Linked DNA regions of Homo sapiens. The protein of the gene in region 3 purifies or fractionates together with the protein of the main gene of each other region. This does not show direct contact. Each region holds a gene or a part of one and is shown on either strand. Other genes may lie near its edges. The genes, in order: MTR, NEU3, F12, ZMYM4, CDC42EP1, TEP1 and PEX6.

Evidence for each region.
Region 1: the proteins of F12 (region 3) and MTR purify together in Homo sapiens (affinity purification with mass spectrometry; one large-scale study listed by BioGRID and IntAct). This does not show direct contact.
Region 2: the proteins of F12 (region 3) and NEU3 purify together in Homo sapiens (affinity purification with mass spectrometry; one large-scale study listed by BioGRID and IntAct). This does not show direct contact.
Region 4: the proteins of F12 (region 3) and ZMYM4 purify together in Homo sapiens (affinity purification with mass spectrometry; one large-scale study listed by BioGRID and IntAct). This does not show direct contact.
Region 5: the proteins of F12 (region 3) and CDC42EP1 purify together in Homo sapiens (affinity purification with mass spectrometry; one large-scale study listed by BioGRID and IntAct). This does not show direct contact.
Region 6: the proteins of F12 (region 3) and TEP1 purify together in Homo sapiens (affinity purification with mass spectrometry; one large-scale study listed by BioGRID and IntAct). This does not show direct contact.
Region 7: the proteins of F12 (region 3) and PEX6 purify together in Homo sapiens (affinity purification with mass spectrometry; one large-scale study listed by BioGRID and IntAct). This does not show direct contact.

The regions. Positions count from the first base shown.
Region 1 is NC_000001.11:236,899,792-236,903,291, forward strand, and holds part of MTR (methionine synthase), read left to right. Parts: 3' UTR 1-3,500. UniProt on the Homo sapiens protein: Catalyzes the transfer of a methyl group from methylcob(III)alamin (MeCbl) to homocysteine, yielding enzyme-bound cob(I)alamin and methionine in the cytosol. MeCbl is an active form of cobalamin (vitamin B12) used as a cofactor for methionine biosynthesis.
Region 2 is NC_000011.10:74,995,433-74,998,932, forward strand, and holds part of NEU3 (sialidase-3), read left to right. Parts: intron 1-1,424; exon of another isoform or gene 1,425-1,445; intron 1,446-3,500. UniProt on the Homo sapiens protein: Exo-alpha-sialidase that catalyzes the hydrolytic cleavage of the terminal sialic acid (N-acetylneuraminic acid, Neu5Ac) of a glycan moiety in the catabolism of glycolipids, glycoproteins and oligosacharides.
Region 3 is NC_000005.10:177,404,103-177,406,564, reverse strand, and holds part of F12 (coagulation factor XII preproprotein), read left to right. Parts: intron 1-503; coding exon 504-603; intron 604-759; coding exon 760-830; intron 831-836; exon of another isoform or gene 837-1,005; intron 1,006-1,131; coding exon 1,132-1,242; intron 1,243-1,379; coding exon 1,380-1,511; intron 1,512-1,650; coding exon 1,651-1,755; intron 1,756-1,900; coding exon 1,901-2,066; intron 2,067-2,151; coding exon 2,152-2,369; intron 2,370-2,462. UniProt on the Homo sapiens protein: Factor XII is a serum glycoprotein that participates in the initiation of blood coagulation, fibrinolysis, and the generation of bradykinin and angiotensin.
Region 4 is NC_000001.11:35,387,209-35,390,708, forward strand, and holds part of ZMYM4 (zinc finger MYM-type protein 4), read left to right. Parts: coding exon 1-70; intron 71-245; coding exon 246-396; intron 397-1,701; coding exon 1,702-1,874; intron 1,875-2,739; coding exon 2,740-2,890; intron 2,891-3,500. UniProt on the Homo sapiens protein: Plays a role in the regulation of cell morphology and cytoskeletal organization.
Region 5 is NC_000022.11:37,563,480-37,566,692, forward strand, and holds part of CDC42EP1 (cdc42 effector protein 1), read left to right. Parts: intron 1-2,592; 5' UTR 2,593-2,870; coding exon 2,871-3,213. UniProt on the Homo sapiens protein: Probably involved in the organization of the actin cytoskeleton. Induced membrane extensions in fibroblasts.
Region 6 is NC_000014.9:20,386,002-20,389,501, forward strand, and holds part of TEP1 (telomerase protein component 1), read right to left. Parts: intron 3,297-3,500; coding exon 3,237-3,296; intron 2,063-3,236; coding exon 1,904-2,062; intron 623-1,903; coding exon 446-622; intron 195-445; coding exon 74-194; intron 1-73. UniProt on the Homo sapiens protein: Component of the telomerase ribonucleoprotein complex that is essential for the replication of chromosome termini. Also a component of the ribonucleoprotein vaults particle, a multi-subunit structure involved in nucleo-cytoplasmic transport.
Region 7 is NC_000006.12:42,966,274-42,969,181, reverse strand, and holds part of PEX6 (peroxisome biogenesis factor 6), read left to right. Parts: intron 1-196; coding exon 197-308; intron 309-683; coding exon 684-892; intron 893-1,618; coding exon 1,619-1,814; intron 1,815-2,323; coding exon 2,324-2,400; intron 2,401-2,524; coding exon 2,525-2,657; exon of another isoform or gene 2,658-2,678; intron 2,679-2,734; coding exon 2,735-2,908. UniProt on the Homo sapiens protein: Component of the PEX1-PEX6 AAA ATPase complex, a protein dislocase complex that mediates the ATP-dependent extraction of the PEX5 receptor from peroxisomal membranes, an essential step for PEX5 recycling.

The DNA.
Region 1 (3,500 bases), on a different chromosome or scaffold from region 3:
TAGTGAAGACTACACAAGAGGAAATAGGGCTTTTAAATAAATAGATGTTCTGTAGCATTGGTCAGGGAAATATGAATTAGGACCACAATGAGATTCCATTTTATATCCATAAGATTTGCAAAGGTTGGGTCTGACAGTACCAGTTGTTAGATCTGTAGGGACTTGTACAACATTGTGGATGTGTAAACAGGCACCACTGCTTTAAAAAACAATTATCCCTTACAGACTTGAACATTTGCAGACGTTATGATCTTGCTTCCAACTCCCACCTGTATGTCCAGCAAACTCTTGCATGTGGCCACTAGGAGGAATGTGTAAGAATGTTCATAGTTACATATTTATAATAGTTAATAACTGGAAAAAGTGAAATGTATGTCTGTCTACAGGAAAATAGGTGAATAATTAGATATATATATTCATTCTACGGGATATTATTCAGTAGTGGAAATGAGTGAACTACAGCTATACCTCACAATAAGAATGAATCTCAGAAAATATTAAGGAAAAAAGCAAGTTTGAAGAGACCACATGGGGCGTACTATTTTTATTGAGCCCAAAAACAAGCAAAACCAAAGAATATGTAGTCTAAGCATACGTATACAATAAAACTATGCTATTAAAAAAAAAGAAGGTAACTGATAAACCAAAATTGAGCATAGTAATTACCCACAGAAGGAGGAAGTGGAAGGGACAGGAGCACATAGGTAGATGCCAAGTTATGCAGCTGTTCTGGTTCCTCCTGGTAGGCTTACAAGTGTTTACTATATGCTATTAATACATTATACTTTATAACTAATAGATAACAGTTTTTTACATATTAAATATGTTCTACTTAAATATATTATAAAAAATAAAGGCAAAGTGGAATGATAACCTAAAATCTGGTATGGTGATTTTGTAGGTAATGTTTGTATATGTCAAATACAGTTTTTAAGGAAAGGAAGAACATCTTAGGGTAAACAGCAGCTAGAAAGGTGAGGGGCAGGAGAGTGGTGCATCCTTGCTGCTGCCAGCAGTGCCCAGATACCAGGCTTTGGGGAATGAGTGGATGGCTGGACCATTTGCTAAGACAGAGGCCAGGGGATGGGAGAAATGATGAGTTTTGGAAAGATTCGATGTGACTAGACTGAATATAGGCAGTTGGATACTAGACTTTGGAATTTAAAAAGAATGTCTGGAGTTAGAATTGAGAGACTTGAACGTGGAGATGGAGGTCAGGCTGCAGTGCGATGGGATCATCTATGGAGCATATGAGGAGAAGAGAATCTGGAGGAGGAGGAGGGGGAGCCAGCAGGGGAGCAGCTGTGGGTTGGAGGAAGCCAGGAGGGAGAGTGCAATGCCGAGAAAGCAATGAAGAGCGTTTCGAAGCATGCCAGCAGAACCCAATGCTGCAAAGAGGCCTGGGAATGGGATTGCTGAGGGCCCTTCTCACAGTGAGCCCCTCAAGAGCAGCGTCAGGGGATTGTGGGGACTGTTGGCACACAGCTGGCTTTGCTAGGTTGAAGACAATGGGAGGTGTGGAAGACTTGTTGACTCATTTAAAGAAGATTGGAGGGAAAGGTAGGATTGAGAGTGTTTCAGACAGAAAAAGGATTATATGCTGAGGGTAAAGCACAAGTACAGAGGGTTGCAGATAGTGCAGAAGTCTTTAAAAACAATTATTTTAACCCAACTTCCAGGGAGACTGAATTTCTTCTGCCAGTCAGTAACACCATCAACCTGGGAGTTGCCCCTGACCCCTCCAGTCTTAGCTCCTGCTCCTGTAACAAAATACCACAAACTGGTTAGCTTATAGAGAACAGATGTTTATTTCTTACAGTTCAGGAGTCTGGAAGTCCAAGATCATGGTGCCATCATGGCCGAGTTCTGGTGAGGGCCCTCTTCTGGGATGCAGCGGCCAGCTTCTCATGTTCTCACAGTGGGTGGAGGGTAAGCTTGCTCTCTGGCCTCCTCTTAAAAAGGCACTAATCCCATTCATGAGGGCTCCACCTTCATGACCTAATTACCTCCCAAAGATGCCATCTCCAAACACCATCATTCTGGGGATTCCATTTCAACATGATTTGGGGGATACATCAGACCATAACACTTTTCTTTTTCTCAACCTTCACATCCAGTTGGTTCTCAAGCCCTGGCGATTTTACGCGCTAGATAGGTCTTAAGTTCATCTCTACGCCTGCCCTGGTTAAGGTTCTCATCATTTCTCCTCTGGATTCATCTGCAACACAGGCTGCCGGGTTGGTTCCCACCTCCTAGAGCTGGAAGAGTGGGCTCTCTGATTCTTTACACCCCCGCCTCAATCCTCCTGCTGCCTGAATAACCATCTCCCCGTGACCTAGGATATATCCCAGCCCCTTAGAGGCATGCAAAGCCTTCCATGTCTGACCCTGCCTCATGTCTTGGAAGCCCTAGACTGCTGCTGTACCCTGAAGGAGGTACCTGCTCACATTGGCCCCTCTGTCTGGAATAACCCCACCCCGGTTCCACCCAAGTCAGGAAAGCTTCCCAACCCCTCCCTCCCACCACCCCAAAGCTAAGTGAAGTGACCCCTCTTCTTGCCTCTGTAACACCGCCATGCACATTTCATACAGCCCTTGCTGAAACTTCATCTAGTTCTCTGTTAGACTTAACATTCCCTAAGGGCAGGTTTGGAACCTTACTCATCTTTATATGGCGTCTAAAATAGTGCTTGCTTTATGATAGGTGCTCAGTAAAGGTTGTCTTGAATTGAGCAGATCCTCTAGGGACAGGAGTTGGATGGAGAGCAGACTGTAAAGCCTCATGAGGGCAGGGGCCCTGCCTCTTCCTGAGCTCAGGATACCCAGAGCCTAGCTCAGTGCCTGCCATGAAATTGTTCACTCCATCAAGCCTTGTTAAATGAGTTCGGGGCGGGGGGAGCATGATGGTTTTCTCTCTCTCAGAAAGAAAGCGCTGTATCAAAGCCCTAGCACCCTCTCTACACCCACCTTCAGTATTTCATATTAGATGCGGCCCAAGTGATACTTTCTTTACCGTCCCGTGAAGACAGCATATTGGCAGCCCTGCAAAAACAAAACAAAACAAAACCCTCAGTTCATGGCATACTTGCTATAAATCAGCTATGTGTATTGTCAAATTGTAGAACTGAAAGTATATTCTGATTCGGTGTGTGTATAAGGAAATATACACCAGTATATGCATTAAAACGTCAAGAAGAGCTGGGCACAGTGTCACATGCCTGTAAACCCAGCTATTCAGGAGGCTGAGGTGGGAGGATCGGTTGAGGCCAGGAGTTTGAGGCTGCAGTGAGCTATGATTGCACAGCTGCACTCCAGCCTGTGCTGAGACCTCATCTCTTAAAAAATAAAAAATAAAAAGTCTAAGAGGATACACAGAAATTTTTAAGTGGTTACCTCCACGGAATGGGATTAGGGGATCAGAGGTGAGGGAACTCATGGTTTGGCTATTTCTCGTTCTTTCTGCACTGTTTCAAATTTTTACAAGTGTATGTTATTGTACTT
Region 2 (3,500 bases), on a different chromosome or scaffold from region 3:
GTTACTGCTCTTTGGCCTGGAAGCTACAGGGTTATTTCAGATCCCAAATAGGCATACGTCGGAGATATTGTGGATTTGGTTCCAGACCACCACACTAAAGTGACTATCACAATAAAACAAGACACATAAATTTTTTGGTTTCCCAGTGCATATAAAAGTTATGTTTACACTATACTGTAGTCTGTTAAGTGTGTAGTAGCATTATGTCTAACAAAAAGTACACACCTTAAAATACTGCTGAAAAGTGCTAATGATTATTTGAACCTTTGGCTAGTCAATCTTTTTGCTGGAGTGGGTCTTGCCCTGATGTTGGTGACTGCTGACTTATCAGGGTGGTGGTTGCTGAAGATTTAGTGTATTATTATTATTATTATTATTATTATTATTTTTCTAGAAGCATTTCTTACTTACATAGATAATTTCTTAAAATAAGACAATGGGCTGGGCACAGTGGCTCATGCCTGTAATCCCAGAACTTTGCGAGGCCAAAGTGGGAGGATTGCTTGAGCTCAGGAGTTCAAGACTGGCCTGGGCAACATAGCAAGACCTTATCTCTAATAAAAATAAAAAACATTGGGTGGGTTTAGTGGCACACATCTGTAGTGGCAGCTACTCGGGAGGCTGAGGGGGAGGATTGCTTGAGCCCAGAAGTTCAAGGCTCCAGTGAGCTGCGATTGTGCCACTGCCCTCCCGCCTGGGGGACAGAGCAATACCCTGTCTACCCCCAACAAGAAATAAGACAACAATGAAGTTTGCTGAAACAGTTGACACTTCCTTTCACAAAAGATTTCTCTGTAGCATGCAATGCTACAGAATTTGATAGCATTTTTCCCATAGTAGAACTTATAAATGAATCCTCTCAAACCCTGCTGCTGCTTTATCAACTAAGTTGATGTAATATTTTAAATCCTTTGTTGCCATTTTGACAATGTTTACAGCATCTTCACCAGAAGTAGATCCCATCTCAAAAAACTACTTTATTTGCTCATCTATAAGAAGCAACTCATTTATTCAAGTTTTATCATGAGATTGCAGCAATTTAGTCACATCTTCAGGCTCCACTTCTAATTCTCTTGCTATTTCCACCATATCTGCAGTTACTTCCTCTACTGAAGTTTTGAACCCCTCAAAATCATGAGTATGGGAATCAACTTCTCAATGTCTCTTAATGTTAATATTATGACCTCCCATGAATCATGAATGTTCTGAATGGCATCTAGACTAGTGGAATTTTTCCAGAAGGTTTTCAGTTTACTTTGACCAGATTCATCAGAGTAATCACTATCTATGGCAACTATAGTCTTATGAAATATTTCTTAAATAATGAAACTTGGAAGTTGAAATGACTCCTTGATCCGTGGGCTACAGAATGGATGTTGTATTAGTGGCCGTGAAAACAACATTAATCTCCTCATACATCTCCATCAGAGCTCCTGGATGACAAGGTACGTTGTCAATGACCAGTAATATTTTGAAAGGAATCTTTTTTCCTGAGCAGTAGGTCTCAACAGGGGGCTGTAAACAGAAGTGCTTCATCCAGGCTTTGTTTTTAGAGCACTGGCAGAGTAGATTTAGGATAATTCTTAAGAGCCCTAGGATTTTCTGAGTGATAAATGAGCATTGACCTCAACTTAAAGTCACCAGCCCGTCCTTTGAAGGTTTGAAGCCAGACATTGACTTCTCTCTAGCCATGAAAGTCCTAGATGGCATCTTTCAGTAGAAGGCTGTTTTGTCTACAGGGAAAATCTGTTGTTTGGTGTAGCCACCTTTGTCAGTTACCTTAACTAGATCTTCTGGATAACTGGCTATAGCTTCTCCCATCAGCACTTGCTGCTTCACCTTGCCCTTTTAAGTTACGGAGACAGCTTCTTGCCTTAAACCTCATGAACCATCCTCTGCTACTTTCCAACTTTTCTTGTGCAGCTTCCATACCTCTCTCAGCCTTTGTAGAACTGAAGAGAGTTAGAACTTTGCCCTGGTTTAGGCTTTGTCTTAAGGGAATGCTATGGCTGGTCTGATCTTTTATCCAGACCTCTAAAGCTTTCTCCCTATCAGCAATAAGGCTGTTTTGCTTTCTTATCATTCCTGTATTCACTGGAGTAGCACTTTTAATTTCCTTCAAGAACTTTTCAGCCTGGTGTGGTGGCTCACGCCTGTAATCCCAGCACTTTGGGAGGCCAAGGTAGGCGGATCACGAGGTCAGGAGTTCGAGACCAGCCTGACCAACATGCTGAAATCCCGTCTCTACTAAAAATACCAAAAAAAAAAAAAAAAAAAAAAATTAGCCGGGCATGGTGGTGCATGCCTGTAATCCCAGCTACTCAGGAGGCTGAGGCAGGAGAATCGCTTGAACACAGGAGGCGGGGGTTGCAGTGAGCAGAGATCGAGCCACTGCACTCCAGCCTGGGTGACAAAGGGAGACTCTGTTTCAAAAAAAAAAAAGAACTTTTTCTTTGCATTTACAGCTTGGCTGTTTGGCACAAGAGGCCTAGCTATCGGCCTGTCTTGGCTTTCAACATGCCTTCCTCGTAAGTTTAATCATTTCTAGCTTTGATTTAAAGTGAAAGATGGGGGACTCTTCCTTTCACTTGAACACTTAGAGGCCATTGTAGGGTTACTAATTGGCCTAATTTCAATGTTGTTGCATTTCAGGGAATAGGCTGAAGGAAAGGAAGAGAGATGAGGGAACAGTTGGTTGGTGAAGCAGTCAGGACACATATAGCATTTATCAAGTTCACCATGTAATATGGGCACAGTTGTCATACTCCAAAACAATTACAGTAATAACATCAAAGATCACTGATGAAAGATCACCATAACAGATTTAATAATAATGACAATGTTTGAGATATTGTGAGAATTAACCGAAACATGACAAAGACATGAAGTGAGCACATGCTCAGTTCAGGGTTGCCACAAACCTTCAGTTTTGTGGCAATATCTGACAAATGCAGTAGAGCAAAGTGCAATAAAATCACATAGGCCTATATTTCTTATTGTTGCTTTCCTCTCTCCCAGGGCTAGCTTAAGTGAGACAAATGAGACAATGGTTTTGAGAGTCTTTTGTAAAAAAAATATATAGTTGTGTCATCTCTCTATATCTACATAGTAGGCACTTTAATACTCCTAACCTACCCTGCTTTTTTACCTACAGATGTCTCAAATCTGACCATTAAATCTTCATATCCACAGCAGATAACCTTCTTCTGCTGTTAAAGTACACAGTGCAAATGCTATTCTGCTGAACATGGGCCTTGCCATCAATCCCTGTCTTTGCTTTTGATAACATTGGCTCACATTTCTCTTGGTGAAGTTTTTTACTTTGTGGGATTTTCAGTTCCTGCTCTTTCACCTTATCTTCTCATGAGTCTTTCTCATGGCCTCCCAGGACCAGACTTCTGCATGTATAACTAGCCTCCACAGAGGCCCAGCCCTACAGCCCAGTAGTACTTGGGATTCTAGCTCTTTCCTTTCTTCTAGGACAAGCATTGCCTGTGGTC
Region 3 (2,462 bases):
ACAGCTAGCAGGTTGTGGAGTCAGGAGTCTACTCCAGCTATCTGACTCCTGAACCCAAGTTTTTTTTTTTTTCTTTAAGATGGAGTCTCACTCTGTCACCCAGGCTGGAGTGCAGTGGCGCGATCTCGGCTCACTGCAAGCTCCGCCTCCCGGGTTCACACCATTCTCCTGCCTCGGCCTCCCGAGTAGCTGGGACTACAGGCACCTGCCACCACCCCCAGCTAATTTTTTTGTATTTTTAGTAGAGAGGGGGTTTCACTGTATTAGCCAGGATGGTCTTGATCTCCTGACCTCGTGATCTGCCCGCCTTGGCCTCCCAAAGTGCTGGGATTACAGGCTTGAGCCACCGCGCCCGGCCCTGAACCCAACTTTTAGAGCAGAAAGTGTTTTCAATGCACAGCGACCTTTTTGAGGGTCTGTCCTTTTCCTGACCAGACCCTGAGGGACAGTGCCTGAGCAGTTGAGTACAGGGGAAGTCCTCAGAGAGTGTGTTGTCCCTGCAGTTCTCACTGTCACCGGGGAGCCCTGCCACTTCCCCTTCCAGTACCACCGGCAGCTGTACCACAAATGTACCCACAAGGGCCGGCCAGGCCCTCAGCCCTGGTAAGACTACGCAGAGGAGTTGGAGCAGGGGCCTGGGAGACATGTACCCTGCCTGTCCTTCTGTCCAAGGAACTCTGCTTGGAGAGAGGGGACTGTGATAGGGCAGGGTGGGCCAGGCCCCTGGGTAGAGCAGGGAAGCCTTGTCTCTTTCTACAGGTGTGCTACCACCCCCAACTTTGATCAGGACCAGCGATGGGGATACTGTTTGGAGCCCAAGAAAGTGAAAGGTGCTACACACAGCCTCTGGGGTGGCCTGGGGCTCTCTCCTCCCGCCTCATTACTCTCCTGGTATCACCAGACCCCACACACCTGGGATTCTGGACCCAGCCCCTTCTCTCCCTCCACAATACCCTTTGGAAGTCCAGAGGGAGAGTTCTGGGAAGGAGTGGTCCCATTTTGCAGGTGGGTAAACCAAGCTTGGAAACTTGGAGTAGCAAGGTCACAAGGCAAGTAGGTTCAAGAAGGGCCTTGGCCCCCAGCTGTGTGACTCAGCTCCCTGCTCTTCCTTCCACCATGTCCATCTCTCAGACCACTGCAGCAAACACAGCCCCTGCCAGAAAGGAGGGACCTGTGTGAACATGCCAAGCGGCCCCCACTGTCTCTGTCCACAACACCTCACTGGAAACCACTGCCAGAAAGGTGAGGAGATGTGGAGGACCTGGGCGGGGTGCTGGGGGACAGGGGCAACCCTGGGCCTACAGAATAGGTTGCTGGATACTCGGAGACTTGGCATGGTCCTAGACTCTCCTGAGACCACTATCCCTCTTTGTCCCCAGAGAAGTGCTTTGAGCCTCAGCTTCTCCGGTTTTTCCACAAGAATGAGATATGGTATAGAACTGAGCAAGCAGCTGTGGCCAGATGCCAGTGCAAGGGTCCTGATGCCCACTGCCAGCGGCTGGCCAGCCAGGGTGAGCAGATGGTTGGGAACGGGCCAGGGAGGAGCGTCAGGAAGACAGGCTGGCAGGAGGCCGGGTGGTGTGCCAGGAAGGAGAGCTCTCTGGGGGGGTCTTTAGGCCCAGGGGTGGCTCACTGCGTTCCCTCCCCAAGCCTGCCGCACCAACCCGTGCCTCCATGGGGGTCGCTGCCTAGAGGTGGAGGGCCACCGCCTGTGCCACTGCCCGGTGGGCTACACCGGAGCCTTCTGCGACGTGGGTGAGTGAGGGTCTGGGGCAAGCAGAAGGCCAGCCCCCAGGTGGGACGGGCTTGCCAGGAAGGAGGAGGGAGAGTGCGGAAAGCAGATGAGAGGGAGGCAGGAGAGCCCAGCCTTGGCTGCCCAGGGAGCCCCCTTTCTCCTCAGACACCAAGGCAAGCTGCTATGATGGCCGCGGGCTCAGCTACCGCGGCCTGGCCAGGACCACGCTCTCGGGTGCGCCCTGTCAGCCGTGGGCCTCGGAGGCCACCTACCGGAACGTGACTGCCGAGCAAGCGCGGAACTGGGGACTGGGCGGCCACGCCTTCTGCCGGTGCGCCGCGTGGGGCTGGGTGACCCCTCCGCCCCAGGGCTCCGGGCTCCCGGCGCTCTAACGGCGCCCCGTCGTGTGGCTACAGGAACCCGGACAACGACATCCGCCCGTGGTGCTTCGTGCTGAACCGCGACCGGCTGAGCTGGGAGTACTGCGACCTGGCACAGTGCCAGACCCCAACCCAGGCGGCGCCTCCGACCCCGGTGTCCCCTAGGCTTCATGTCCCACTCATGCCCGCGCAGCCGGCACCGCCGAAGCCTCAGCCCACGACCCGGACCCCGCCTCAGTCCCAGACCCCGGGAGGTTAGGAAGTGGGGGGGGGAAGGAGGAGCCGAGAGGGCGCCGGGCGAGCTAGATTCCGGCCAGCCGGCCGCGGGCTCTCCGTCCTCAGCCCCT
Region 4 (3,500 bases), on a different chromosome or scaffold from region 3:
TGTTGTGAAACTCAAATGTCAACACTGTAACCGTCTTTTTGCCACAAAACCAGAACTTCTTGACTATAAGGTAAAGTATAGCATGTTCATGATAAGATTTTGAGTATACGTGGGTCTATTTGTAAAATTATTTTTAACTTTGCATCTCTCAAAATCATACCATTTGTTTTGAAAGTAAGGGAGATAAGGAGTTCCATAAGACAAACCAAATGTTTAATTAGTACTTAATGATTATTTCTTTGCAGGGCAAAATGTTTCAGTTCTGTGGCAAGAATTGTTCTGATGAATATAAGAAAATAAATAATGTAATGGCAATGTGTGAATATTGTAAAATTGAGAAAATTGTAAAGGAGACTGTTCGGTTCTCAGGTGCTGACAAGTCATTCTGTAGTGAAGGTAAAGACAGAAGATTATCTTACCTACTGAGCATGTTGGTTGTTTTAAAGCAGTTGATGATGATTTAAGCTTTCACTGTCTAAGTTAATCTGTTTTATTGTTTATGTATAACGTAAATGCCTTTTCGATTCATTTACACTTAGTTCATTCTTTTTTGATCTAGTTTTCTTATATTATGTAGCTGTTAAAATGAAGTGAAAGATTTGCAAAGTATAATGCAGAAGAAGATGATGTGAAAAACATTTAACATCCTTAGGTTCCCCATTATTAGGTTGATCGGGACCTCAAAGAGCTTCTAGTTCGTGTACTTATTTCTAAATGGGATGCCTTAAATTATGGTAACATTCTAAGTTTATACTTTTATTGTCTTAAACAGCCATTATATTTCTGAATATAAATGGCTTGAATATGCAAATTAATATGTGGAAGATTGTTTTCCTTAGATAACTCTTCTATATGTTTATAATGTTTTATTTTACTCTAAAGCTGTATTAGCCTTCTAGAGCAAGGGCTTTCAAACCTTTTGATAACACCAAAGAAGAAATACATTTACACTGTGACCCAGTATATTTTCACATACCTAAATAAAAGTTTTTTTTGTTTTTGTTTTTGTTTTTTGAGACAGAGTCTTGCTTTGTCACCCAGGCTGGAATGCCATGGAGCGATCTTGGCTCACTGCAACCTCTGCCTCCTGGGTTCAAGCGATTCTCCTGCCTCAACCTCCCGAGTAGCTGGGACTACAGGCACCCGCCACCACACCTGGCTAATTTTTGTATTTTTAGTAGAGACAGGGCTTCACCATGTTGGCCAGGCTGGTCTCCAACTCCTGACCTCAGGTGATCCACCCACTTTGGCCTCCCAGAGTGCTGGGATTACAGGTGTGAGCCACTACGCCCAGCCCCAAAAGTTTCATGAAATAAAATCGATGCAGTTTAATATTTTCTCTTCTGTGCTATCCTGTCTTATATCATTTAAAACAAAAACAAAAACAAAGCAAAACAAAAACTAGTATAGATACTCTAAAAAATCAAGATACTCTGTGAACTGGTCAGGACCCAAGTGTGAAAACTTTGTCCTAGACCACTTATTTTTCTTTTTTTTGTTTTTGTTTTTATTTGACATGGGGTCTTGCCATGTTGCCCAGGCTGGTCTCAAACTCCTGGGCTCAAGCACTCCTCCCGCCAGCCTCCCAAAGTGTTGGGATTACAGGTGTGAGCCACTGCACCGGGCCTGTCCTAGGCCATTTAAAGTTGCAGAAAACTAATACTTCTACCTAATGTTAATTTTATCTTTCCTGATTTTTAGGTTGCAAATTGCTTTATAAACATGACTTGGCAAAACGCTGGGGAAATCACTGTAAAATGTGCAGTTATTGTTTACAGACATCTCCCAAATTGGTACAGAATAATTTAGGAGGGAAAGTGGAAGAGTTCTGTTGTGAAGAATGCATGTCCAAATATACAGTTTTGTTCTATCAGGTAAATAGAATTCACATTCCTGGGTTTTTCATTCTAGGGCATAAATTATTCCCTTTTAAAATTTCATGTCACATAAAGGACAATTTAATTATTTAAAACTTTTAAGTATTAAATGTTTTATGCCTTCTAGCAATTAATATAAGATTTAGAAAGACTTTAATGTTATTGAAGTTTTCTTTTGTTTTTAATTTCCTGTAGGAGACATATCAGTCTTAAGACATTAAAATATTTAAACTTATAATTTTATTCACTTATTATTTAAATAAAGTGAATTTGTCTTCTGAAGTCTGAGGAAGATAGACCTTATTTTTATTTCACTTTGTTTTTTAATTGCTATAGAGTGAAGTCTGTATGTTACATGTGTTTTTTAAAAAAAATTAGTATAAAATCAGCTGGGCGCGGTGGCTCACGCCTGTAATCCCAGCACTTTGGGAGGCCGAGGCGGGTGGATCATGAGGTTAGGAGATCGAGACCATCCTGGCTAACATGGTGAAACCCCGTCTCTACTAAAAATACAAAAAAATTAGCTGGGTGTGGTGGCGGGCGCCTGTAGTCCCAGCTACCTGGGAGGCTGAGGCAGGAGAATTGCATGAACCCAGGAGGTGGAGCTTGCAGTGAGCTGAGATCACGCCACTGCACTCCAGCCTGGGCGATAGAGCAAGGCTCTGTCTCAAAAAAAAAAAAAAATATATATATATATGTGTGTGTGTGTGTGTGTGTGTGTGTATAATCATTGATAAAGACAAACTAATTTTTTGATCTAAATTCTAAGTTAATTTCGTCACTTGTTATGTGTGTCTTATTTTTATTTTGTCAGACCACAGATAATTTGTTTCTTACTCCTTGACTACCTTCTTCTTTTTAGATGGCCAAATGTGATGCTTGTAAGCGACAGGGTAAACTCAGTGAGTCCTTGAAATGGCGAGGGGAAATGAAACATTTCTGTAACCTGCTTTGTATCTTGATGTTCTGTAATCAGCAAAGTGTATGTGACCCGCCTTCACAAAATAATGCAGGTAAAATTAACCTTAGGTACTGAATGGAGTCTTTGGTCAATACTAGGAACTACTGTTCTTTTACAGATCAGGAACTGTGTAAACAGTTGTCATTAATTTCATGAAACCTCAGTTTCCTTGTATTCTGTATCAATAACATTTAGCTTTTTTTGTTGAACACCTTATTTCACTGTCGTCCGTGTGAAGAGACCACCAAACAGGCTTTGTGTGAGCAACAAGGCTGTTTATTTCACCTGGGTGCAGGCGGTCTGAGTCTGAAAAGAGTCAGTGAAGGGAGATGGGGTGGGGCCGTTTTATAAGATTTGGGTAGGTAAAGGAAAAAGGGGGGTTGTTCTCTGGCGAGCAGGAGTGGGGGTCACAAAGTGCTCAGTGGGGGAGCTTTTTGAGCCAGGATGAGCCAGGAAAAGGAATTTCACAAGGTAATGTCATCAGTTAAGGCAGGAACAGGCCATTTTCACTTCTTTTGTGTTGGAATGTCATCAGTTAAGGCAGGAACCGGCCATCTGGATGTGTACCTGCAGGTCAGAGGGGATATGATGGCTTAGCTTGGGCTCAGAGGCCTGACACCTTAGATTAAAGCTGAGTAAAAATGAGTTTTTGATTAAATAGA
Region 5 (3,213 bases), on a different chromosome or scaffold from region 3:
AGATGATTCAGAAGTTCCCCCCCACGAGGGGGAGGAGTTAGGGTTGGGGGAGGATCAGATGGTGGGAAGGGAAGAGAATGTAGTCAGAAAACAAAGCAAGCTTTGTCCTATTGGCTTCTTTGTTCTTATCTTGTTATTTAACCTATTTTGAATTTCAAATAACATTAGAAGGGCAGTATTGAGATTTCTATGCTTGGAGGTGGCAGCAATGGTTTTAAAAAAGGAAGAAGGCTGAGCCGCAGACATAGGTGTTCTTAAGGATCATTATTGACTTTTATCAGCTGAGGTCCCAGGTCTGTGTAGGTAAGTGACTTGCCCAAGGTCACATTGTGAGGACACAGAGCCCAGCCTGCCCTCCCACTCTCAGAAGGGGCCAGGGTGATGTTTTGGCATGCAGGTTATCATGGAGATCTGTGATTCAGCTGGCATTGATTTGGCACTTGTTAAGTGCAGAGCCCAAGCTAGATGCCCAAGGGAGAAAGGCAGGAAAATCCAGGCGGCCTCCCCACCCTCCAAGTGCATTGCCGATCTCGGGAGGCGAGACTGGGCTCCACAAGCCAGTCAAGGGCTTATGTGAGTCAGAGGCTCTGAGTTCAAGTCTCAACTAGCTCTGTGGATCTGACCTCTAGCCAGCTTTGCCCTCAGTGGGCCACAGGAAAAGCATAGGATCACAGGTGCGCTCTAGCCTGGACTTTGTATGACACTAGAAGGAAAGGGGTCAGAACAAGAGATGCTTAGAGAAGCTGGAGCAGGGGAGGATGTGTGTGTGTGTATGGTGGGGGTGGGGAATCAGGAAGGAGAGATGCACAAGAAATAGCTTTTGGCACCAGCTGAGCTTTTTCCAAAGCTTGCTCCCTGACAGCAAGGCTCCTACGTCAGTTTGACAAACTGTGATAAAGTCTTTTCCTGCGGGCCTTCTCAGAGACTTGAATATGCTCACGCATGGAGGAGGCAGCTGGAAAAAGCCACTTTTGACCACAGGATCCTTATTCCAGGAAGCTCCTTGAAGGTGGATGGTTCAGAGGAACCTCTGCTCTGGCTGTTTACCCAGCTTCACAAAGCTTTGGTGAGGTGTCTGCTCCCTCCTGGCTTCGCTGCGTGGCAGAGATTTTAATGCACAGAGAAGGGAGGTGACTTACTCAGTTACTCAGCAGGAGGCAGTGTAGCCTGGGGCTCCAGGGCTCTGGGATGTGGGGCCTGTTTCACCATTTCTTACTACGTAGCCTCAGGCAAGTTACGTCACTTTGTGCCTCAGTTTCCCCTCTCTAATCTCATGCTGCCCTCAGGAGTAATGTTTTTGTTGTTGTTGTTGTTTGTGAGACGGAGTCTCGCTCTGTCGCACAGGCTGGAGTGCAGTGGCGCAATCTCGGCTCACTGCAACCTCTGCCTCCCGGGTTCAAGCAATTCTCCTGCCTCAGGCTCCTGAGTAGCTGGGATTACAGGCGCCCGCCACTACGCCCAGCTAATTTTTTGTATTTCTGGTAGAGACGGGGTTTCACCATGTTGGCCAGGCTGGTCTCTAATTCCTGACCTCGTGATCCACCCGCCTTGGCCTCCCAAAGTGCTGGGAATACAGGCGTGAGCCACCGCGCCCAGCCCCTCAGGAGTATTGTATGGGTTTAAACGATGAGGCGGGTGAGGTCTTGGCACTTAGTAAGTGCTTCATAAGTGGGCCCTGCAGAATAAGTGCTTTCTTTTTTTTTTCCTTTTTTTTTTTTTTTTTTTTGAGACAAGGTCTTGCTCTGTCTCCCAGACTGGAGTGCAGTGACACAATCATGGCTCATTGCAGCCTTGACCTCCTAGGCTCAAAGGATCCTCCCTTCTTAGCCTCCTGAGTAGCTAGGACCACAGGCATACACCACCACACCCAACTAATTTTTTTAAAATTTTTTTGTAAAAACCAGGTCTCATTATGTTGCTCAGACTTAGAATGAGTGAATGAGTGCTTCTATTTTTTCCTGATACATGGCTTAAGTGTATAGCTCAATGAATTATTTGTCCCCTATTCAGTCAGTACCTGCTCAGAGGCTGCCATCATTCTGATTGCTAATAGCATCAATTGGTTTTGCCTGTTACTGAACTTCCTTGTTTTTTTTTTTTTTTTTTTTTTTTTTTTTGAGACGGAATGTTGCTCTTGTTGCCGAGGCTGGAGTGCCGTGATGTGATCTTGGCTCACTGCAACCTCTGCCTCCAAGGTTCAAGTGATTCTCCTGCCACAGCTTCCTGGGTAGCTGGGATTACAGGTGCGCACCACCACGTCCGGCTAAGTTTTGTATTTTTAGTAGAGACGGGGTTTCTCTATGTTGGCCAGGCTGGTCTCGAACTCCTGACCTCAGGTGAGCCACCCACCTCAACCTCCCGAAGTGCTGGGATTACCAGCATGAGCCACCGCACCCGGCTGTGTTCTTGAACTTTCTATACACAGACTCACTTGGGTCCCCGTGTGCCTAGCTTCTGCCCCGCGTCAGTTGGAGGCCTCCATCCGTGTAGTTGGGTGTGATCATCTATCCTCTTCAGCTGCTAATGTTTGGACCCCGGATTTCCTCCTCTGTCGCGGGCCTGCCGTCACCGCCCATTCTGTCTTCCTTCCAGGTCTCCACCTCTGGGCAGGAGAGTTGCCGACCACCTCGGGGGTGCTTTCTCTGCGCTTGAACATCTATAGCTGCTTCTGAGGGGCTGGGAGCCGGGCCCCTGGGAGAGACGAGCCATGAACCCCCCACAGCCTCTGCATTTGGGGACCTCACCTTAGGAGAGTGCCATTTACAGCTTCCGCCAGGGCAAAGGAGCTGAGCAGCCATCCCAAGCCCAGCCCACCTCCCTCCCCCGGCCCCTGGTAGGCATGGACTAGCAGCTGTGAGCAGCCAGAGCTGATGCCCGGCCCCCAGGGGGGCAGAGGCGCCGCCACCATGAGCCTGGGCAAGCTCTCGCCTGTGGGCTGGGTGTCCAGTTCACAGGGAAAGAGGCGGCTGACTGCAGACATGATCAGCCACCCACTCGGGGACTTCCGCCACACCATGCATGTGGGCCGTGGCGGGGATGTCTTCGGGGACACGTCCTTCCTCAGCAACCACGGTGGCAGCTCCGGGAGCACCCATCGCTCACCCCGCAGCTTCCTGGCCAAGAAGCTGCAGCTGGTGCGGAGGGTGGGGGCGCCCCCCCGGAGGATGGCATCTCCCCCTGCACCCTCCCCGGCTCCACCGGCCATCTCCCCCA
Region 6 (3,500 bases), on a different chromosome or scaffold from region 3:
AGTGTGGCTTCTCCCAGCCTCTGCCCCAATCTTTGCTTCCTCCCCAGCCCTCCTCCAAACCTGTCTGCCTTACCCAGTGGAAGTGTGGATGGTCAGGAAGGTTGTAGCTGGGGGGAATGTATCCATAACGGGAGCCCAGAATCCCCACAAACAGCTGTGCGTTCTCCACCTCCCCAAGGCACACTTCCAGTTGTCTGTAGGCATGATGATAGGGACGTGTGGGAGTCACTGGGGGCATGGTATCAGGGAACATAGGCACAAACAGGGAGACGGGGCCCTGACTCGCAACTGAGTAAAGAAAAGGTAGGCTGCTCTTGTTAGTATCCAAGGAGCGACTCCCGCCTTCACCCTCATCCATTCTTGCAGCCCCAACCATGCCCACCTCAGGTCCACCACTCAAGCCCCTCATCCCCGACCCAGCCCCTCTTCTCTGCAGCCCCCACACCTGTTCCTACGGGTCTCCTCCTCAGTGACGCCCCAGCGGAGGTCGATTCCGTGAAGGCTGATACGGTGAGGGGCCGCTCGGGCCTGCAGTGCTGGCAGCACAGACCTCAGCAGCAGGTCCCGCTCCCCATGCATGTCTCGGAAAGTGGATGAAATGAAAAGCCGGATGCTGCGCCATCTGGGGATAAGCAGAGAGCTGGGCTCAGTCTAGGGATGATTCCCACCCCCCATCCATAGACACTGCTGTGATCACCCTTTAGCACTGAGCACAAGCCAGGTACGACAGACAGCAGATGGGTGCCCAGCAGGCCTTCAGAGAAGCACCTGCTAGTGGTCTCAACTGCAGGGCCCTGGAATTTAATGCCCACTTGCTATTTCTTGTACACCTCTCTTTTTTCTGGTAATCATTTTTATATACTTACTGCTTGTTCATGACAGCACTGTGAGGTAAGCACTATCATTATCTCCATTTTAGCAATCAAGAAACGATAACTTTTTTTTTTTTTGAGACAGAGTTTTGCTCTTGTTGCCCAGGCTAGAGTAAAATGGCGCGATCTCGGCTCACTGCAACCTCTGCCTCCAGGGTTCAAGCAATTCTCCCACCTCAGCCTCCCCAGTAACTGGGATTACAGGCATGAGCCACCACACCTGGCTAATTTTGTATTTTTAGTAGAGACAGGGTTTAGTCATGTTGGACAGGCTAACCTTGAACTCCCGACCTCAGGTGATCTGCCCGCCTCGACCTCCCAAAGTGCTGGGATTACAGGCGTGAGCCACGGCGCTCAGCAAGAAACTATAGCTTTAAGAAATTAAGCAACTGGTCAGGCGCGATGGCTCACGCCTGTAATCCCAGCACTTTGGGAGGTCGAGGCGGGCAGATCACCTGAGGTCGGGAGTTCAAGGTTAGCCTGTCCAACATGACGAAACCCTGTCTCTACTAAAAATCCAAAAAAAAAATTAGCCGGGCATGGTGGCAGGCGCCTGTAGTCCCAGCTACTCGGGAGGCTGAGGCAGGAGAATGGTGTGAACCCAGGAGGCAGAGCTTGCAGTGAGCCGAGATCACGCCACTGTACCCCAGACTGGGCGACACAGCGAGACTCCGTCTCAAAAAAAAAAAGAAATTAAGCAACTAAGCCAGATTCAAACTACTATTTGGCAAAGCCACAATGAAAAAGCCAGAACCTGTGCTCCTAAGCCCTCTGCCTACGCCCTGGCCATACGGCCATGATGTCTGCCGTCATCTTTGCATTCTGACTTCCTTTCCTCAGTAGAGAAAGGAAGGGCTTGCTCACAATCTGACAACTCCCTGTGGTAGAGAAACCTCCGCCTGAGAAAGAGGAAGCATGCCTTCATGAAGAGAACAAGCGGCACCTCACCAGCTAGAATTTCAGCCCCAGGGTTTCCCAAGGTTTGACTGCAGCCCCTCCCAATTCACAAAGGCATAGAAACACAGACTGACCCTTGCTGGGAAACAGGAGCCAAGGGGCTTGGAGTGTCCTCTTCCAGTGGCCGGAGAGACTGGACCCCTGTCTTTCCTGGGGGTGGTGGAATCTTGAATATTTTGTCCATTTGGCCCACATGTTCCAGAAGATGGGAGGCCCCATGCTCTGCAATGAACCTGACATAAATAACAAGATAAATGAGAGTAGAATACCACAGGTCGAAATCAGTGAGGTCTTCCGAAAAGGGCAGGGGGAAAAAGATATGTCCAGGTTTGGTGACCAGTTAAGTCAAGCTCCTTAAGAAGAGGACCATAAGCAGTTTATGCAGACTTAAAATAAATGAGGATGCAGAACCACAGGAATGAAGGAAAAGAGAAGCCCAGCTCTAGCCCCTCCTGCTGTGCGTGGTAATCACAAACTTGCTGTTGGGCCGGGGCAACGGGGTAGGGAAAGGTGTAAAGATTAAAGCCATCCCAGTCTGGGCTTGAGCAGCTCTGTGCCAGCCATAAAGGCCCCCTGGAGAAGGAGGAATGTGCCTGAGGCTTTCTCATAGGAGTTGAGGGAAATGGATGGTATCCAGAGGAAAAGCCAGGGGAGAAAACAAGTAAATAAGAAGGCAAAGGATGGAGAGACAGATAAAAAAAACGTGAAAAGATTTCTGTAATTTTAGCTTAAATAGACATAATTTTCTCTGGATCAAGAATTGAACAGAAGCCACAGTGACATGGCCAACTCTTGACAGTGAAGTCTCCCATGTCCCCTTTCTTCTTTCCTACTGGATATAATACAAACTTGGCTGAATACCAAGATGGCTGGAGCTCAGGCAGACATATTGAATTATGAGGTAGAAGCTGAGTATTTGAGGATCATGGAGCAATAAGAGAGAAAGTGCCTGGGTCCCTGTGACACTGTGTTGCTGCTATGCCTGGATGGCTGTAAAAGAGGAGTGAACTACCTCACTTTAAAAAAGAAGTAACTGGAGCCGGGTGCGGTGGCTCACGCCTGTAATCCCAGCACTTTGGGAGGCTGAGGTGGGTGGATCACAAGGTCAGGAGTTCAAGACCAGCCTGACCAACATGGTGAAACCCCGTCTCTACTAAAAATACAAAAATTAGCCGGGCATGGTGGTGCATGTCTGTAGTCCCAGGTACTCGGGAGGCGGAGGCAGGAGGATCGCTTGAACCCAGGAGATGGAGGTTGCAGTGAGCCAAGATTGTGCCACTGCACTCCAGCCTGAGCGACAGAGTGAGATTCTGTCTTAAAAAAAAAAAAAAGTGACTGGAGTAGAGATAATCTCCTAAAAACTTTCCAACAAAGTATCCAACCCTTCAGTATCCATTCTGTACTCACTTCAGTATCGCATCAGTACAGCCTGAGAGTGTCACATCATTGGGATTCAAATCTGTTGACCTGGCAAAGGAAGAAGCAGTCATTAACCATCACAAACAATACCTGGAACACAGTCACTGCCCACTAACATCCCAAGATGAAAACCCCACTTCTGCACCTTTAATAGGGTTATGTGGTAGGCTAGGGCTAGGGTGGACTCTCACAGAGGGGTACAGAGTTAGGCTAAAGTATCCACCTGAAGTGCAACAGAGGTAAGAAGGCAGA
Region 7 (2,908 bases), on a different chromosome or scaffold from region 3:
ATGCCCCGGCCAGAGCACCGCAGGTGGTGTGGGAGACACAGCCTCACTACATGGGGACAGCCCTGTCCTGGGGTCAGGGAGGCTCAAGGAGAGAAAAACAGGGTATCTGCTTTCTAGATCTAAGGGATCTTGTGTTACTGGGGACTCTAATGTTTGGGCAAAATGAAGGAGACGAATGTCTGTTCTCTGGTTGCAGGGGTGCCCTGCTGACAGGAACTAGCAGTGTCCTTCTACGGGGCCCCCCAGGCTGTGGGAAGACCACAGTAGTTGCTGCTGCCTGTAGTCACCTTGGGCTCCACTTACTGAAGGTGAGGGTCTCTGGAGAGTAGAACCCCAGCTACTTCCCCTCCCCAGCTCATGTTCTCCCTCTCTGCTGCTTCCTCTCCCCTCCCTCCTCTGTCTACTCACAGGCCCTAGCACTTCAGCCCAGTGGGTCAGGCATATTCCCATGATGCTGAGCTATGGAGAGGTACTTTCAAGGAGGAGGGAGTTGCAAGATATTGGTGGACAGTCCAGGGAATGGGATAGGGTAAAAAAGAGGTAGGACTTGGCCAGGGTACCTTCCCTGTCCCTGCCCTCCAGAGAAAAAGATGGCCCACATCTTCCACCTCCTCCTCCCCTGATTCTCCTGCCCTTGTCATGCTTTCCCCTTGCTCACAGACCCATTGGGATCCCCTCCCCAGGTGCCCTGCTCCAGCCTCTGTGCAGAAAGTAGTGGGGCTGTGGAGACAAAACTGCAGGCCATCTTCTCCCGGGCCCGCCGTTGCCGGCCTGCAGTCCTGTTGCTCACAGCTGTGGACCTTCTGGGCCGGGACCGTGATGGGCTGGGTGAGGATGCCCGTGTGATGGCTGTGCTGCGTCACCTCCTCCTCAATGAGGACCCCCTCAACAGGTACTTATACAGAGCTGGGCCTCTCAAAGCTGGGGGGGCCGGCTGGGCGCGGTGGCTCACACTTATAATCCCAGCACATTGGGAGGCCGAGGCAGGTGGATCACCTGCCTTGATCAGGAGTTCAAGACCAGCCTGGCCAACATGGTGAAACCCTGTCTCTACTAAAAATACAAAAATTAGCTGGGTGTGGTGGCGGGTGCCTGTAATCCAGGCTACTTGGGAGGCTGAGGCAGGAGAATCACTTGAGCCCAGGAGGCGGAGGTTGCAGTGAGCCAAAATCATACCATTGCACTCCAGCCTGGGCGACAAGAGCAAGACTCAGTCTTAAAAAAAAAAAAAAAAGGGGGAGCGGGGGGGCCAGCCCTCCTACTTTTCAGCCTTTCAGTCCTCCCTTCTCTCACCCCTCAGTGGCTTCTCAGTCATCTCCCATCCATTTGGCTGCCCTCTAGACAGCCCTGAGCTCCGTGTCTTTAGAGGGATCCAGAGGGAGGAGTCTGTGGTCTAGCATTTCTTGGGGAACACTCGGTTAAAGAAAAAGCCTCTGCCCTCAATGTGATGGGGGAAACACAGTTCCCCCATCTAGGAACTGGGGTAGATGCTCATCTCCCTACCCCATCCTAGCACCCACCTCACTTCCCTGCCCTTCTGTGCCGACTTTGGGACAAGGCAGTCCACAGGAGCTGCCAGCCATGTTCTCACCCTCAGTGCCCACTCCTCTGTCTGCAGCTGCCCTCCCCTCATGGTTGTGGCCACCACAAGCCGGGCCCAGGACCTGCCTGCTGATGTGCAGACAGCATTTCCTCATGAGCTCGAGGTGCCTGCTCTGTCAGAGGGGCAGCGGCTCAGCATCCTGCGGGCCCTCACTGCCCACCTTCCCCTGGGCCAGGAGGTGAACTTGGCACAGCTAGCACGGCGGTGTGCAGTGAGTATCAAGGGAGAGTACTGGCCCTCCCTAGGAGGTCCCTGGCTTTTGTTACAAGAACTCAGTCCTGTTGCCTTGTGAGTGAGAGTAGAAAACCCAGCGCGGGCGCCGTGGCTCACGCCTGTAATCCTAGCACTTTGGGAGGCCGAGGTGGGCGGATCACCTGAGGTTGGGAGTTTGAGACCAGCCTGGCCAACATGGAGAAACCCCGTCTCTACTAAAAATACAAAGTTAGCCAGGTGTGGTGGCACATGCCTGTAATCCCAGCTACTTGGGAGGCTGAGGTGAGATAATCGCTTGAACCCGGGTGGAAGTTGCGGTGAGCCGAGATCGCGCCATTGCACTCCAGCCTGAGCAACAAGAGCAAAACTCCGTCTCAAAAAAAAAAAAAAAAAAAAAACAACAAACCTAAGGCATCAACAGAGGGCCTCTGCTCTAGCTGGGGGACGGTCCCTGAAGGTTCCTGCCTACTGTGCCCTGCTCATGTGTCCTTTCCTGTGGTTCCCTAGGGCTTTGTGGTAGGGGATCTCTATGCCCTTCTGACCCACAGCAGCCGGGCAGCCTGCACCAGGATCAAGAACTCAGGGTAAGAGGACGTGGGCACCGGAAAGGCGGAAAGAGGAAATGGATGTAGATGGGTGGGTGGTGAGGAAGGGAGAAGGGAATGGGACGCTGATGGTGAGGAGGCTTCCCTGTGTTCCTCTTTGCAGTTTGGCAGGTGGCTTGACTGAGGAGGATGAGGGGGAGCTGTGTGCTGCCGGCTTTCCTCTCCTGGCTGAGGACTTTGGGCAGGCACTGGAGCAACTGCAGACAGCTCACTCCCAGGCCGTTGGAGCCCCCAAGGTGGAGACCAAGTCCTTGGAGGTGGGACAGGAGCCCCTCCAAGAGCATATCCCAACCACGCACTTTCCATCTCCTAGATCCCCTCAGTGTCCTGGCATGATGTGGGTGGGCTGCAGGAGGTGAAGAAGGAGATCCTGGAGACCATTCAGCTCCCCCTGGAGCACCCTGAGCTACTGAGCCTGGGCCTGAGACGCTCAGGCCTTCTGCTCCATGGGCCCCCTGGCACCGGCAAGACCCTTCTGGCCAAGGCA